Homo sapiens: one gene and its partner. Each later gene encodes a partner of the first gene's protein in a complex. Each region holds a gene or a part of one and is shown in the gene's direction. Other genes may lie near its edges.

What was found.
Region 2: the proteins of NEBL (region 1) and XIRP2 are in contact, whole or in part, in a crystal structure (PDB 4F14), measured with the Homo sapiens proteins. Residues at the interface, in NP_006384.1 of Homo sapiens: Tyr963, Asp964, Tyr965, Asp969, Asp971, Glu972, Ile987, Asp988, Asp989, Gly990, Trp991, Met1004, Pro1006, Asn1008, Tyr1009; in NP_689594.4 of Homo sapiens: Pro2420, Pro2421, Pro2422, Thr2423, Leu2424, Pro2425, Lys2426, Pro2427.

The regions. Positions count from the first base shown.
Region 1 is NC_000010.11:20,824,063-20,831,341, reverse strand, and holds part of NEBL (nebulette), read left to right. Parts: intron 1-35; coding exon 36-146; intron 147-2,707; coding exon 2,708-2,812; intron 2,813-4,802; coding exon 4,803-4,895; intron 4,896-7,279. UniProt on the Homo sapiens protein: Binds to actin and plays an important role in the assembly of the Z-disk. May functionally link sarcomeric actin to the desmin intermediate filaments in the heart muscle sarcomeres.
Region 2 is NC_000002.12:166,883,441-166,891,713, forward strand, and holds the start of XIRP2 (xin actin-binding repeat-containing protein 2), read left to right. Parts: upstream 1-5,039; 5' UTR 5,040-5,117; intron 5,118-8,273.

The DNA.
Region 1 (7,279 bases):
AAGCAAAGCTCTAAGATTATTTTCTGTTCTTTTAGAAACAATACAAGAAGGACTTAGAAAATGAAATTAAAGGGAAAGGAATGCAAGTGAGCATGGATATCCCAGATATCCTTCGAGCCAAGAGGACATCTGAAATCTATAGCCAGGTTGGTCATGAATGAAGATGCTCAGAATCGTGTATTCCAATGTCATGTTGCCATGTGCTTTGTATGTCTCTATGAATGATATCTTTCTGAGGGCATTGCATTCAGAGCTAGTGTACTCTTTCACTAAGAAACCATTGGCCAAACTTGATTAACCGTACTAATTAATAGGACAACAGTCATAGATTCAATGCAACAGACATTATGGAGAGCTACAGCCTCTCTGTCGGGGCTCCTTGTTTTGAGTCCAAGGACATTAAACCTTTTTTTTTTTTTTTTTTTTTTTAAATTTTAGAGATGGAGGTCTCACTCTTTCACCCAGGCTGGAATGCAGTGGCACCATCATAGCTTGCTGCAGCCTCAAACTCCTGGGCTCAAGCTTATCTTCCTGCCTCAGTGGGCATGAGCCATTGTGCCCAGCCCAAGGATATTTTAACCTTTTCTTTCTTTCTTTTTTTTTTTTTGACCCTATTGGACACTTGGCTCAAATGCTTTTGCTAATACTACAGAAAAATAAATTACAAACGTTTTGTCTTTTAACCATTTCATAATGAATATTAATATTAAAATAGTTCCAAATAAAGCTAACAGTGGCTAAAGCTGCACAAGGTATAAAGTGAAGTTTAGTGTTAGGTAAAAATTAAGGGAACAGTGAGGTTTTCTTGGTAAAATTTAGATTTGTCAAATATACTTGTCCCATATTCTGTAAACAAAGCTGGATGTGGGAGAAGTAGTGACCACAAAAATTTATGGAAGAAGAATTTATTTATAAAATCTGACTTGGGCAAAAACATTCATTAGCAAATAATATCTTTGCTGTAACATTTACTAAAAAAGAATGACTCCCAATGGAAAAAAATAGAAGGAATGAAAAAAATGAAAATGGTTATTTAAAATTGACCATAGCATTTAATTTGATTAATGGAGTTTATGCAGAAAGGATTGTGTAACAACATTTGGTGAAATTTGTTAAAATTCTGATTAAGACATAAGCAAGGACATTAACCATCCACTAGTTCAAAAGGGTAGTATCAAGATGGCAGAGTCAAATGTCAGAGGACTTGTGTGCCTCTCAGCCTCCGCAGCCGACACAGCCGCTGGGATGATCCTGAAGTGTGTGTTCTGTTCTCAGTGTTCGTGAACTTGGAGACATTGGCTTGGCCATATCAGCTTAACTAAAATCCTAAGTCAATGCATTAAACAACAAATAGACATTTGAGTCAGTGGAGAAGAGTTACTTACTCTCTCAAGAATGCCAAATTCATTCCTTCAGTAGGTAAATACCTCCTGAGCACCCATTTGCAGGCAAAACTAGACATGGCTTTGCTCTTGGAAAGCTACAGATAAATCTAATAATCATGTAAATATAGTATTACAACCATGATATATACACCTGAAAGTAAAAGTATTGAGAGTGAAGGTGCCTGAGCTGTCAGATTTCCTGCATTAACTCAACAGCATAGATTTTTTTTTAGTGTGGTGTGAGAATATATCTAATTTTAAGGGATTTTAATCACTGAAATACAATTGGGATACTTACGAGGGTGTAATGAAGCCTGGTGCATTTCAACATGAATAGTAGTTACCTTTCTTTTTTTTTAATTTTATTATTATTATACTTTAAGTTTCAGGGTACATGTGTACAATGTGCAGGTTAGTTACATATGTATACATGTGCTATGCTGGTGCGCTGCACCCACTAACTCGTCATCTAGCATTAGGTATATCTCCTAATGCTATCCCTCCCCCCTCCCCCTACCCCACAACAGTCCCCAGAGTGTGATGTTCCCCTTCCTGTGTCCATGTGTTCTCATTGTTCAATTCCCACCTATGAGTGAGAATATGCAGTGTTTGGTTTTTTGTTCTTGCAATAGTTTACTGAGAATGATGATTTCCAATTTCATCCATGTCCCTACAAAGGACATGAACTCATCATTTTTTATGGCTGCATAGTATTCCATGGTGTATATGTGCCACATTTTCTTAAGTAGTTTGCCAGAATAATTAACTTCACTGATTTTGGAATCAGAGAGCCTGGTTTTAAGTTGAGGCTCTGATACTTACTATCTAGTACTTCAGTTTCTCCATCTGTAAGATGGAAATAATAATAGTATCTGCTTGTCAGGTTGATTAAATGAGTTAGTGTGTGTTAAGTATTTAGAACAATACCCATTACATAGTAAGTACAATGTAAGTGCTGGTACTAGGATAAGATATTGCCTGGGTTGTATTAGAGCTCATAGTAGCTCATTTAGTGGAGAGAAAATTAAGATTTTAATCTCAACTTCAAAATACTGTTAACTTTCCCTTAATCAAATCTATCTTCACATGAAGTAGGAAGCAAAGCGTAAATCTAGAAGCCATGTCGTATGGTAGAGATCGAAGAATGGTATCATTCTATCTCTGTCTCTCCACCTCTCTCTCTCTCTCTCTGGGAGTGTAAGTCAGTAAAAACAGTTTTTTACTCTCTCTCTCTCCCTTCCTCCTTTCCTGCCTCCCTCCCTCCCTCTCACATGTGCGCACACACATAGTTTCAGATTTATATTAACTGTTTATGTTTTTAGAGAAAGTATAAAGATGAAGCAGAGAAGATGCTTTCTAACTATTCTACCATAGCAGATACTCCTGAAATTCAGAGAATTAAGACAACTCAACAAAACATTAGTGCGGTGAGTAGCCATTACTTCTTTTAAGTTGCCACCTTGAAATTTTGTTTTGTAAGAAATGGTCTTTTTTCCTCATTGTCTGATGTTTTCTGCTGTCTTAGTTGAATTTTCTGTCAAGTGTATTATCTTTATTTCTTTAAAATAATAAGAATACTGATAATTTTTACAAATTATCATTTTTCATTATTTTTTTGGAATTACAAATTCAAAATTTCCTCTTCGGTATAAATGACAGTTATTAACTAAATTTTAAAATTTAACTCAGGAAAGAAGTCTGTCTTCTACACAGATTTTACTTTGAAGGTGAAAATAGTCATATGAAGTGATTTTATTCCTGGTTATTGATTGTTTTTACTGATAATATGTCTAACCATTTACTCATTCTTAATAAATTTCTAAACTTCTATATTTTTATTTTGAGGAAGAGGAATTGCATCAGCACTTTTTTTTTTAACTTTTATTTTAAGTTTGGGGGTACCTGTGCAGGTTTTTACATAGGTAAACTTGTGTCATAGGGGTTTGTTGTACGATTATTTTGTCACGCAGGTGTTAAGCCTAGTACCCATTAGTTATTTTTTCTGATCCTCTCCCTCCCCTCCTTCTTCACCCTCTGATAGGCCCCTGTGTGTGTTGTTCGCCTCTGTGTGTCCATGTGTTCTCATCATTTAGCTCCCACTTATAAGTGAGAAAATGCGGTATTTGGTTTTCTGTTCCTGCATTAGTTTGCTAAGTATAATGGCATCTAGCTCCATCCATGTCCCTGCAAAGGCCATGATCTCATTCTTTTTTATGACTGCATGGTATTCTGTGGTGTATATGTACCACATTTTCTTTATCCAGTCTATCATTGATGGGCATTCAGGTTGATTCCATGTCTTTCCTATTGTAAATAGTGCATCAGCACTATTAATTAAGAGGCTGAGTCCATTAATAAATGTATAAACTTGACTTCTGTTCTAAAATTGTAAAAATTGACCATACAACTAATATTTTAACATAGAATTAGCTCAGTCATTAATAGTTAAGGAAGCATCTCATCAAAATATAAATTCTAGTAAGTGTGAGGACTTCTGGAATATTTCCTACCTCCTAATTAGTTGGCAAGCGCCAGCTCTCAGAGTAAGCTGGTCAGATGTCTGCTGGGTCTCCACAGGGATGGCCAGGCTGTACTGAGAAATGGGAAAGTCTTGATGGAAGGATGAGGAAAAGAGGCTGTGTGATTCTATAGTGTTCTGTAGTTCTAGCCTTTGGAGGAAAACATCTCTCCTACCGTGCTCTCCCACCCACGCGGGGGCCACTGGATTACCAAATGTCAAGAAAGGGAGTAATTCTATCCTCATTTACCTTTCTTATAATTACTCTGTTTTTCTGCAGAGTACTCATAACGAGGGCACTCATAAATACTCTTGTGTTTTTGTTCTGCTTTGGGTTTGGAAGGGTAGACGTTAGTAGGGGTGGAGACACATGGGAGAGGGTTAACAAATAAGTGGAAGATGAAGAAGATAGACTTGAAATTAACATTGATATTGATGATGAGCTAACATTTTCTTGGAAGAGAATGTGGGCATCCTTGTGTTTGGAGCATAGAAGTTGCCTAAAATGTCATTTTCTTTTTGAATTCAGTGATAACGGCTTAATGGGCTTTTGTAATATCTGCTTTTTCTCAAATACACATGGGACATATATTTATATTTGAAGAAAGGAACTCTGGTTTGCCAATGTGTATTCTTAAAGCAAATAATCTGCAGTCAGCCATGGTAGTGGTCTAGACCTAGAGCAGGAGAGGGTTATTTGTGAGATTATGGGATATAAAACCAAAGTTTTCATGGATTATCTGAATGGATTATTTAATTTGTTCCTATAATTCCGGCACTCATAAATAGATGCAGTATTCATATTATTATAAAACCTGAGAAATTGTCTTTCTAAGAAGCGGATCTAGGACTTGAATTCTGACAAGCTTAGTTATTCTTTTCCTTTTCTTATAATAAAGGTATTTTATAAGAAAGAAGTGGGAGCTGGCACTGCAGTGAAAGATAGCCCAGAGATCGAACGAGTGAAGAAAAATCAGCAGAATATTAGTTCAGTAAGTTCTCTACAGCATTAATTATCTTTTCTAAAAGCAAACCAAAACTATAGACAAATGTTTTTAGTTCTTTACTCAACTGATGGCTTTTTTCCTTTTATTCTTCACTTTATTGAAATGCTATTTCATCATATATCAAAGATCTAACTTTCAGAACAAAAACTGTATCCTTGTTCCCCTTGACTCTGAAGCAGTGTTTCATTTTGATATATCACAATGAAGAAGAGCTAGGTCATTTTAATGAAACCTAGGGTTAGATTTCATCTCTTTGAAGAGAATTTTAACTCTATTAAATTTTGCAGAGAAAGGATACATTTCAGTACCTCTCCACAAGTTGGAAGAAAGAAATTTTTCCCTGATACAATGATTAAAGGCCCCAGAACATTTATTTGGCAGCTTAAGTGAAGGATTAGATTTGAAAAGGCAAATAGTACCAGTTCATTTTTAACCGATGTCAGTCACATCTCTAAGCTTTTTATCAGACACGCTTCTGCCCATTTCTTCTTTCCAGCCTGTTTTACCTTCTGCTTCTTCCAGCAGAAACGAAAACAAATCACACATCTTCACTATAAATTGTGAAATAACTTAGCTTCCAGTAACCTTTAGACTGGGGGGAGGGGTCCTCTTCTGTTGGAAGGGTCCTTCTAACATTAAGGTGCTTAATATTACGGATAAATTGTTTTTTCCATTGAGTGTTTGACATTTGCTGTGGATAATTGCTCTCCTTACCAATTTGATATTCTCCCATGTATATTTAGTACATTGAGTTTCTTTTTTTTTTTTGAGACAGAGTCTTGCTTTGTTGCCTAGGCTGGAGTGCAGTGGCGTAATCTCAGCTCACCGCAACTGCCTCCCAGATTCAAGTGATTCTTCTGTCTCAGCCTCCCGAGTAGCTGGGATTACAGGCACACACCACCACACCTGGCCATTTATTTTTATTGTTTTTATTTTTAGTAGAGATGGGGTTTCACCATGTCGGCCAGGCTGGTCTCAAACACCTGACCTCAAGTGATCCTCCCGCTTCAGCCTCCCAAAGTGCTGGGATTACAGGCATAAGCTACTGTGCCTTTCCGTTACATTTAGTTTCTTGAGGAAGTAAAAAGGATTCGTTCTTTAAATCCCTTACTCTGACTTATCTTTTCACCTTATCCTTGGAAAGAGCACCTTCCCTTTAAGTAATCCAAGCAGAATTGCCTTGATTAGACTCATCTGTGGGTCACTTGGTCATTATGCAGCATCCAGAGAATATCAGTGTGGGTCAGCGTTTGTGAAGAAAGTGTAGGAGAGGTAAGAGAATGCAATAGTAAAGTATACTTCAAAATAAAAGCATAAAAAGTCTACAGAATATGAGTGCAATAAAACCTCTGTAGCACCATGGAGCTGTCTCTTGAATAAAGTGTAAGGAGGACCTAGGCTTAAGGTGTGGATGAGAGTGGATGAATGTGTTCTTCTGATCTTTCATGGTGAGAGCCTGTGTTAGCCTGGTAGATGAATTAGGTTGGGAGAGAAGTATAAAATATTCATTGCTTCTCTTTCCAATGATAATATTTAAAATGCACCCATCGATGTACTGTGGTTTAATATTATAAATATTCTGTAGTGTGCAATTCTATAGACTACAGTGAAATAACTGTGCCATTTTGATTAGAGTCCCTTTGAAAAACAAAAGTGTTCATCTTTAATCATGTTAAGCTTCTTACCTGAGGAAAATCCCAGAGTATTACAGTATATCATTTCTTCTCTTAGCATCCCACAGCCTCTTCTAGCAAACAATAAATGCATAGTTCTGTATCTGCATGAGGTTGGGCCATAAACTCCTGCTTAGTATTCAAATGGAAAGTTGCCCTTTTAAGATTAGCTAGATCTGTCAAACCAAGATATGATTCTCTAACATTTAAAGATCTCGACATTTTCCACCTCCAGAGTACAAGCCTTTTAGCTGTTAGCTCTCTGTCTTAAGAACTATTTTTGAATTTTATTTAGAGGTAGCCTGTCTCAGTGAACTTCCAATTTAACTGTTTTGGGTCTGGACTAATATTGGCATTGTTACTTACATGAAATCCACAGATACTAAGACATAGATGATATCTGAGATATTTAGGTACTGTTTCTTTATGACAGTCTGCATGGTTTTCACCCTTAATCATTTTAAACATTACCAGGTGATTTCTGAAACATGTTTCATGTAGATTTAGATATTTACTAAATTTCAACACGGCCTCTTAAGTTGAGCCTATGCTTTCATATACTTACATATATATGTATCCTTTTCATTCAAGGAAGATTGAATTTGAATTATCTTCCATGAATTTTAGACATATTAAAATACCACCTGAATTGATAGTATCACTAATCATTTTATGAGTTCAAAGAACTCTTTCTTG
Region 2 (8,273 bases), on another chromosome or scaffold:
AAAAGTTCAAGATTTTCCGCCGGGTGTGGTGGCTCACGCCTGTAATCCCAGCACTTTGGGAGACCGAGGTGGGTGGATCACTTGAGATCAGGAGTTTGAGACCAGCCTAGCCAACATGGTGAAGCCCCATCTCTACTGAAAATACAAAAATTAGCTGGGCCTGGTGGCAGGCACCTGTAAACCCAGCTACAGCGGAGGCTGAGGCATAAGAATCGCTTGAACCTGGAAGGCAGAGGTTTTAGTGAGCTGAGGTCACGCCACTGCACTCTAGCCTGAGTGACAGAATGAGACTCTGTAAAAAAAAAAAAAAAAAAAAAAAAAGCTCAAGAGTTTGAAGATGTAGGGGGTTCTATCAGAGAAAAATTGCACTCGACAAGTTGAACAGGCAAGAAAGGATTTATTTAAGACATCACTTTAGGGAAGAGAGATTGAAAGCATCTCTGCTGAAACAAAAGTTGGTAGAGTTTTATAGTGGGGTGAACTGGTGGAAAAGTACTGGAGGACATTAGTGGGGAGGTGGTCAGTGTGACTAGGCCATCTGTGTTTACTAATTGACACTTACTGAAGTTGGGCTCTTACCTTCCCATAGAGACTGGGAGATGGGAATGCTATCTTTCTTGATTTTTTTAAAAAATATTTTAATATGACTACATAATAGTTGTATGTTATTTATGGGATACATGTGATGTTTTGACACAAGCCTGCAGTGTGTAATGACTGCATCAGGGTAGGTCCTTGAGAAAACTTTTCTGGGTTATAAAATTGGCAAGAAGCTGGGAGAAGATTCAGAGAGTCAAAAAATTTGCAATCGAAAGTTTTCTAAAGTAGATATTCTAAGGGAGTCAGGGGTCAATAGTAAGAAGTCTGTAAAGTATAGTCAAGCTGCAGAAAATATTAAGGCATTCTTAGCCATTTTGAATACTATCTCTGTCACTAATCCTGTGAACTTGAACGGGTCATTTTCCCTTTATGACCTGGACAATGTGAGATTTTGATTCAGGGCTTCCATTAAAATCACTAATGCTAAAATTCTGTTTCAAAGGCTGTTACTCAGCCATTAGTCACCGTGATTGCCTTACTGATTTTTAAAATATCAAAAATAATTTTGAAATTCTTTGTAAATGTCCTCCTTGTGACTCCGAAACTTTCCCAAGATATAGTCAATGCTTCCAGGATGCTGCTTTAATACTAGGATTATGTCCATCTGATACTAGTTGTTAAATATTCAGAATATCACTCTGGGCTATTGCAATCTACTTAACAGTTAGTTAGAAAGCAATCCTAGTAAAAACATGGCATTAGCAATAAAGACTTCAATAGGACTTCAATATATCTTATTTTCCTAAGAATCTGTACTTGCCACTGCAATTGCTGTATACTCCCAAACAATCTGGTATCAAATGTTTATTTTCCAAATTTTTTTAAAACCTTTTCCCTTATGTTCAGTTAAAGTCAATTGATTTTGGCCCCATGTAAAATATGCAGGAGATCACAAATGAATCAAAATATTAACTGTCTTTTAACATTTCTCAGTCTATTAAAGGAATAGAAATAAGCAATTTATAAAGTGCTGAGAGAATACATGACTAATTCTGGTTGTTGATGGTGAACAGGTTAGAACTATGATGACTAGAAGAATTAAAAGCATTTATATTAGGGTACATTTGTGGATGGTTTGCTTGAATAGAAAAAGAAAATTTAAGAGACCCATTAGAATTTTATTCAAATATTTAAAGATTGTTTGTTCATGTGGAAGAAGGATTAGACTTGTTTTATATGGCCTCAAGGCTTAGAACAGGCTCAAAGGGAAAATTACAGAGATATTTTGGGTTTAATGCAAGAAATATAATTTTTCAAATGAGAGCTTATTCAAAACCCTTGCTTTGGACTTCCACAACTCCTCTGCCAAGCCTTTCAACAATGAATTATAGTCAGAAATTAATTCACTGGAATGTCACACCAAAATATAAGGTCCTGGGGAATAAAAGACTGCATGGGATTTAATTCAATAACTAGTGACTTTTTTCCCAGTTGATTTTGGATCTCATGTGTGTCAAGTTGATGAATTAATAAATACAAGTGAGTCTCTTACAATAATGTGCCAACCCAGTCTGGAGGGCCCATCCACATGTGTATTGTAGGAGAAGTCTAAGCATCTAATAATTGTTGAGACTAGATGATTTAGCACAGCCCAACAGAAATAAGTGTTGTTAAGACGCAATTCCCTAAAAGGTCCTGGTTGACATTCAGTGCATTAGAATCTGAACTTCAGCAACCAGGTAGGTTTACCCAGATCAGATATGTATAACAACACCTGGAGAAAGTTTTTAATTTAAGTCCTAATAAAGATACCAAAGCCTAGCTGAGAATGAATAAACAAATATTCAAGAACAACTACTTGCTATGGATTTATTATGTAGTCAAATATAAATACTATAGTTAGGCTCCAGTATAAACTTGCTGTCTGTGTCTTCATGGGAATGGGCAAAATATCTCACCCCCATCAAATTGAATGGTTGGTGCACTTCTTTATTCTTTAGAGTGGGCCTAGTGCAACTTCTCAAGCCTACTCAGGTGGCAACTAAAAATTAGAGTTGGCACATGAGATGAAAATTATTTTCAAGCTCTTGTCTAAGGAAATACTTTATTGTTGATATAGTGTCTACTACCCTTTCTTTGAAATCTCACTATCTTCATCTGTCTCCCACTGTTACAAGCTTCTAGGATGGGATGATAATGTACTGAAATCAGGTTATTTATCATTATTTCCAAATACTTTGAATATCTGCTAAAGGGATTCCTCAAAATTCACTTTAAAATCAATTATTATTTTTACTAAGTGGTTTATTATTTTAATGCACACACAGATTTCTGGTTTTCTGCTTAGGAACTATACCAATGTTTCTTAAAAATGTCACTCTCTTATTTGTCCATGCTGTTTTCATTTTGTTAAACGAGTCATTTTGTTAAATGAGTCTTTGGAGATGAGAGGGATACATTAACCTTTTCTTGTGGGAAAAACATTTGGACTCAGAAGTAAAAATGGATCCCTCACTGGTCAGAAGCATTGACTCAAAGGCATGCCTCATTTCATGCCATTCATCTTCACTCTCCTGGGCCTCCAAACCCCAAATGTGCCAACAGTAGTCCCATCGCAACATTATGTGGGCATTACAGTTCTACACATCCTTTTCTGTTGGGGATCTTGCTTTTTTAAAAAAACAGAAGTAGCAAAATGATGCTGATTCTTACTTGGTTTCTCATAATTACCGATAATATTTTGTTTAAAATAGTGAGAATCAGCCCTGCCACAACTTGGTCTTGAATGCTCTCATCTTTATATCTAACCAGTCACCTTACATGTTCAATATTCCAGCTGAGTATCACTTCCAGATATGTTCAGCATAGTTATTCAATAGGAGTACTTAATAAAGACAAAATGTCACCCAAACTGTATTTTCTCTCTGTGTTATGTGGAATTTGCCTGACTTTGGTCAGGATATATTTTGTCTATCCAGTTCTCTGTGTCTACTGTTTTTGTCACTCTGTCGTGGAAGGAAATTAAGTTGATTTGACAGGATTTATTTTTCACAGTGCCAAGGAGATTTTACCCAGTAACTCATGATTTTCTAGGTGCTTGAAAATTGATTTTTTGATGATATGTTTCAGTAAGTTTTCAACTAAATACTGATGCTGACAGGTCTGTAATTTCTAAAGTTATCTGTTTTTTAATCTTCCCAGAGTAGAAACAAGAAACACACCAAGATAAGTACTGCATTTAGTCTTTTTAATATAGCAGAATGTCTAAGTCCTTTTTAAGTTCATAGATGTTGAGCTAATTGTTCTTTATTGACTTTGGCAAACTCTTGGAAAAATAATTAAGTCACCAGAATTTGCAGTTCAAAATGTGACCAGTTTATAACATTAGCCTTGTAGTCGAACCTTTATATCACACCCTGTATCGTCTCCAAATACCATATCATAACTGCCCTATATTTTAAGCTTTCAAACAAGATTTCTGAAACCTACAGTTTGAATACTGGCTAAGCACTGCAGTTATTTATATAATTTATGGTCATTTTTATATATGAAAATTCATTGATTAAAGTTGTAAGATTTAATTTATTATATTAAAATGCATTTCTGCTATTGAATTCCTTTATGCAAAAAAATCAACATTGTCTTTAGTAGTATATCACTGAACCCCTTATATATAAAAACCCCAGTTTGGAACAAAGAGCTATTAGATGACCAAATAAGAATCAAATTAGACTCTGCAATTAGAGTCTGCGAAGAGAAAGACTTTACTTATTTGAAATAGTATATAGCTTACTATATGTAAAATAAAATAAAATTATCTCAGAAGCTGTGGTCTCCTATAATTTGTAGAAGATGATAACTGATATCGCTAAGCACTTTTTGGTTGCAAATAACTATACTTAAATACTGCTAATAAAAGCTGACATCCGCTGATCACTTGCTTCATACCAAGCACTATCCTAAGTTCTTTATGAGCGTGATTTCATTTATTTTGTTCATCTCACAACAGTATAGTTAGAACATACTATTATCATCCCAATTTTCAAGTGAGGAAACTAATGTTTGGATATATTAAATAATGCATCTAATGTCATATACTAGTGTTTGAGTAGGAATTTGAAGCCATTTGGTTTGAATCTGGACTCTATGTTCATGATCATTATCCAAAATTCTCAGGTGTCCCAACCCCTCACAAATGACTTTGAATTAAATATTAGGTTTATTTTTATATGTATGGAACCTGACGCACAGTGATAATTAAAGTGTAGCTCAGCCATAGAGTGAGCCATTGGTCACTATGGGTCTTTGGGTTAAAACATACCTTTAAGAATATGTAGGAAAAAAATGATAATAGCTAACTCAGCAGCATTCATTAATTCATCTGCAGCAGATTAACTTGTTCCAAAATAATGAGATAATCTGATTCTGATGGAACATGGAGCAGACAAATTCTTCTAGAACCCGACCTGTTTCTATGTGGGTGTATCCAGGAAGTCAGGATTATTTGGAGAAATCTGGCAGGTCTCTAGGCAGACAAAAGGGAACATCTGGTAGGGACTGGGACATGTAGAAAAAAGGTAAGATTTTCCTAAGAAAAACCACTTCTTTCATAATTTTTTCTACACATACATGCTTCTCTTTGATAGTTTCTGACAGGACACTATTTTGCCTCTCTCTCCCTATTTCTTTTAAGTAATATACATTAAATTAGCATAGAATCACAGCATCATCAACAAATTCAGGCTAGCGCTTAGTGACAGACACTGCTGCTAGAATCTCTAGTTATTCATTTGTTTTTCTAACTAAGAAACAATTTAATCTGGGGCAGCAATGTGCCCAGAGAAAAAATAGTTAATCTCTCAGACTCAAAACACGTAAGTTTGGCTATATATTATATTTTTGGACACTGAAAGATAGTCAGGGACTTCTGGGGAAGAAATTTAACAAAAACAGCATCACCCAAAGAAAGCATCTGGGCAATTCTCCTTTCTTCCTTCGTTCCATTGAGTCAGGTCAGAGAGGACTCGCCAGGGACAAAGCCATGACCCTCAGGGACCCAAGGGCATGAGCCTGCAGCTGACAGCCCCATTCTGAATAAGCATTCAGGCACACAGACCAGGGTGGTTGTTGCAAACCCCTCAGCAGCTGCCTCCTGGCACAACCACCCACTAACATGTGATCTAGCAGACAAATGGAAGCTCTTCTTACCCCACTTCTTAGGCACTCCAACAAGGGTTCTGAATTCTAAAAACAGCAAAAAACATTCAAATTGTTACATATGAAATGCTTTCCTGCACCTTTCTATCTCAGAGATGACAGCTGTCCCTCCTCCACTCTCTCCCCACTCGCCCCCAGACACCTCCCTAAACAATTTCTGTGCCAAGATGAAGAGGATGTCCCAGGCCATGGGGCTTCTGGCCTTGAAGGGCTGCTGCAGTGGAGCCAGGGCACAGGGTAGGTGAGACACAGCAGAGGTTCTGGCCCAGGTCCCTGGCCTCTCCTCCTGCAGGTGGCGTTTATTTATTCAAGGGGAGCAACCATGTTCATTTTCCCAACAATGTGGCACCATATTTTGCTTTCCTCTCCACTTCCTTCTTCCTTGCAGCCTTCTCCCACTGTTTCCAGATGATCACCAGCCAGGCAAGGCCCACCTTGGCTTGCTCTGTCTCTCCTGCTAGTGCATTTTCTCCTTAAAAGCTCCTTTAGCCTGTCCAGATCCACTTGTTTGACCTTTCTGGTTGTCTATCCTACCTGCTTGGGGTTCTTGATGTTGATGAGTCCTTCCATGCCTTTGTGCTTTTGCTGGTAGTCATTTTCTTCATTTTCATTCTCTCATAAGTCTAGATTTCTTCCCCTTTTTGGGGTAAGCCCCATCTCCACCTTCTTCTCCTTGTTATTCTTCTCCATAGCAAGCAATCCTCAAGCAGGTATTGAATTAATGAATGGTGTTGTGTCTTCTCCAGTTCATTAATATTTCTGTTGATGTAGCTAAGTTTTATTTACTTTTTAGTTTTATTTTATTTTATTTTATTTGAGACAGAGTCTTGCTCTGTCACCCAGACTGGAGCATAGTGGTGTGATCTCGGCTCACTGCAACGTCCACCTCCCAGGTTCAAGCGATTCTCCTGCCTCAGCCTCCTGAGTAGCTGGTATTACAGGCACGTGCCACCATGCTGGCTATTTTTTTGTTTTTTAGTAGAGATGGGGTTTCACCGTGTTAGCCAGGATGGTCTCAATCTTCTGACCTCATGATCCTCCCACCTCAGCCTCCCAAACTGCTGGGATTACAGGCATGAGCCACCGTGCCTGGCCCCTAAGTTTTATTTTTTAACTGTGGGTTCATAGGCTTCGGGCATCAGAATCACCTCTTGGTGCTTTCTAAGAAGGCCAGTTCCCAGTTCAAATTCCAGACCTTGAAACTAGCTGAAACTCCCCGAGTGGGCCCTTAAGAATCTGCAGTGCTAAGGACATCTCAGATGATGTTGGTGCACAGAAAAGGTGAGAACCAGAGCATCTGAACAGACTGTAAATCCCTGAAGTCTGGATTTATGTTTTATAATTCTTTGACAGCTCTCAATAGTAAACTCTAAAAGTTTGTTTTTATTTTTATTATTCACACTGAGATTCATATTTGAAATTTCATGAGAGCAAATTTTGCATGCTTCTTTTATTACAGATGTATTCTGTATGTGGGTGTAGCAGAAGCTGATATGACAGATCATCAGCTTTGTCCTAAATAACAGGTATTGTCTGGTACGCAGCCTGCTTGGGATAATCCATGAAATATTTAACAAATTTCTTCTTTTGTTAAATACTAATTACCCATATCCTCCAGACAGTTTTCTGGGACTCTGAGATGGGTCCTTTTACTAAGGATGAGTTTATTTTTCTATAGAATTTGGAAACAAAAGCTGCTTCAATCAGCCTTTAACGAGTAAACTTGTAAGCTGAGTACCTAGCACAAACAGGGGTTATGGTTGAGGGTGCACTTCTCTCTTCCATGACTTACTAAATAATGCAGCTCCCAGAGCTGGCTATGAGAGATTTGGTGTCTTGTAGCTGCTATCTGGCGACGTATGTCCATCATGCTTGATGTTCATTAGTTAGATGAGATCAGTAAGTTAAAGAACTGTTAAATTTGTGTTTTCCTTTAATGGATACGTGACTGTGGTAGCTGAGTCACAGGACAGAAATTTGACAGAAAAAGACATGGCGGTAAGATAAGCTTATTGCAAATATACAACTTCATAAATTCTTCTAATAACTTGTCTTAGCAAGGTGCCTTAGCTGGTTCACTTAATAAATGTGAATGTGGAGATAAAAGAAAGAAAAATAAACAAATGCATTGTTCCTATCTCTTTTTTACATATATGAATTATGCATGCATCCTATTAGTGGGAAATTAAGTAATGTACTATGTTAGCTACATTTTTGGCAGAAAAATTAATTGTTCTGATAAACCTAGCATAGCTGGAGAAGTTAATGTAATTGACAATATATAATAATAAAGCTTTAGTTAAGTTTTTTCCTTAATATTGAAAATGCCATTTCTTTGAATCTCTTAACTAATTTCTTTCACATTCTTATCAGATAGATATTGAGCAACTATCTGCCAAAACTAATTAAAATTTCCCTCCCAGAAAAGATCAATTACTTGCTTTATTTGGAAAAACACTTTCAGTTGTTGTCTTTTGATTTTTTTTCTCTGAAAAAAAAATTGTTGTCTGATAATC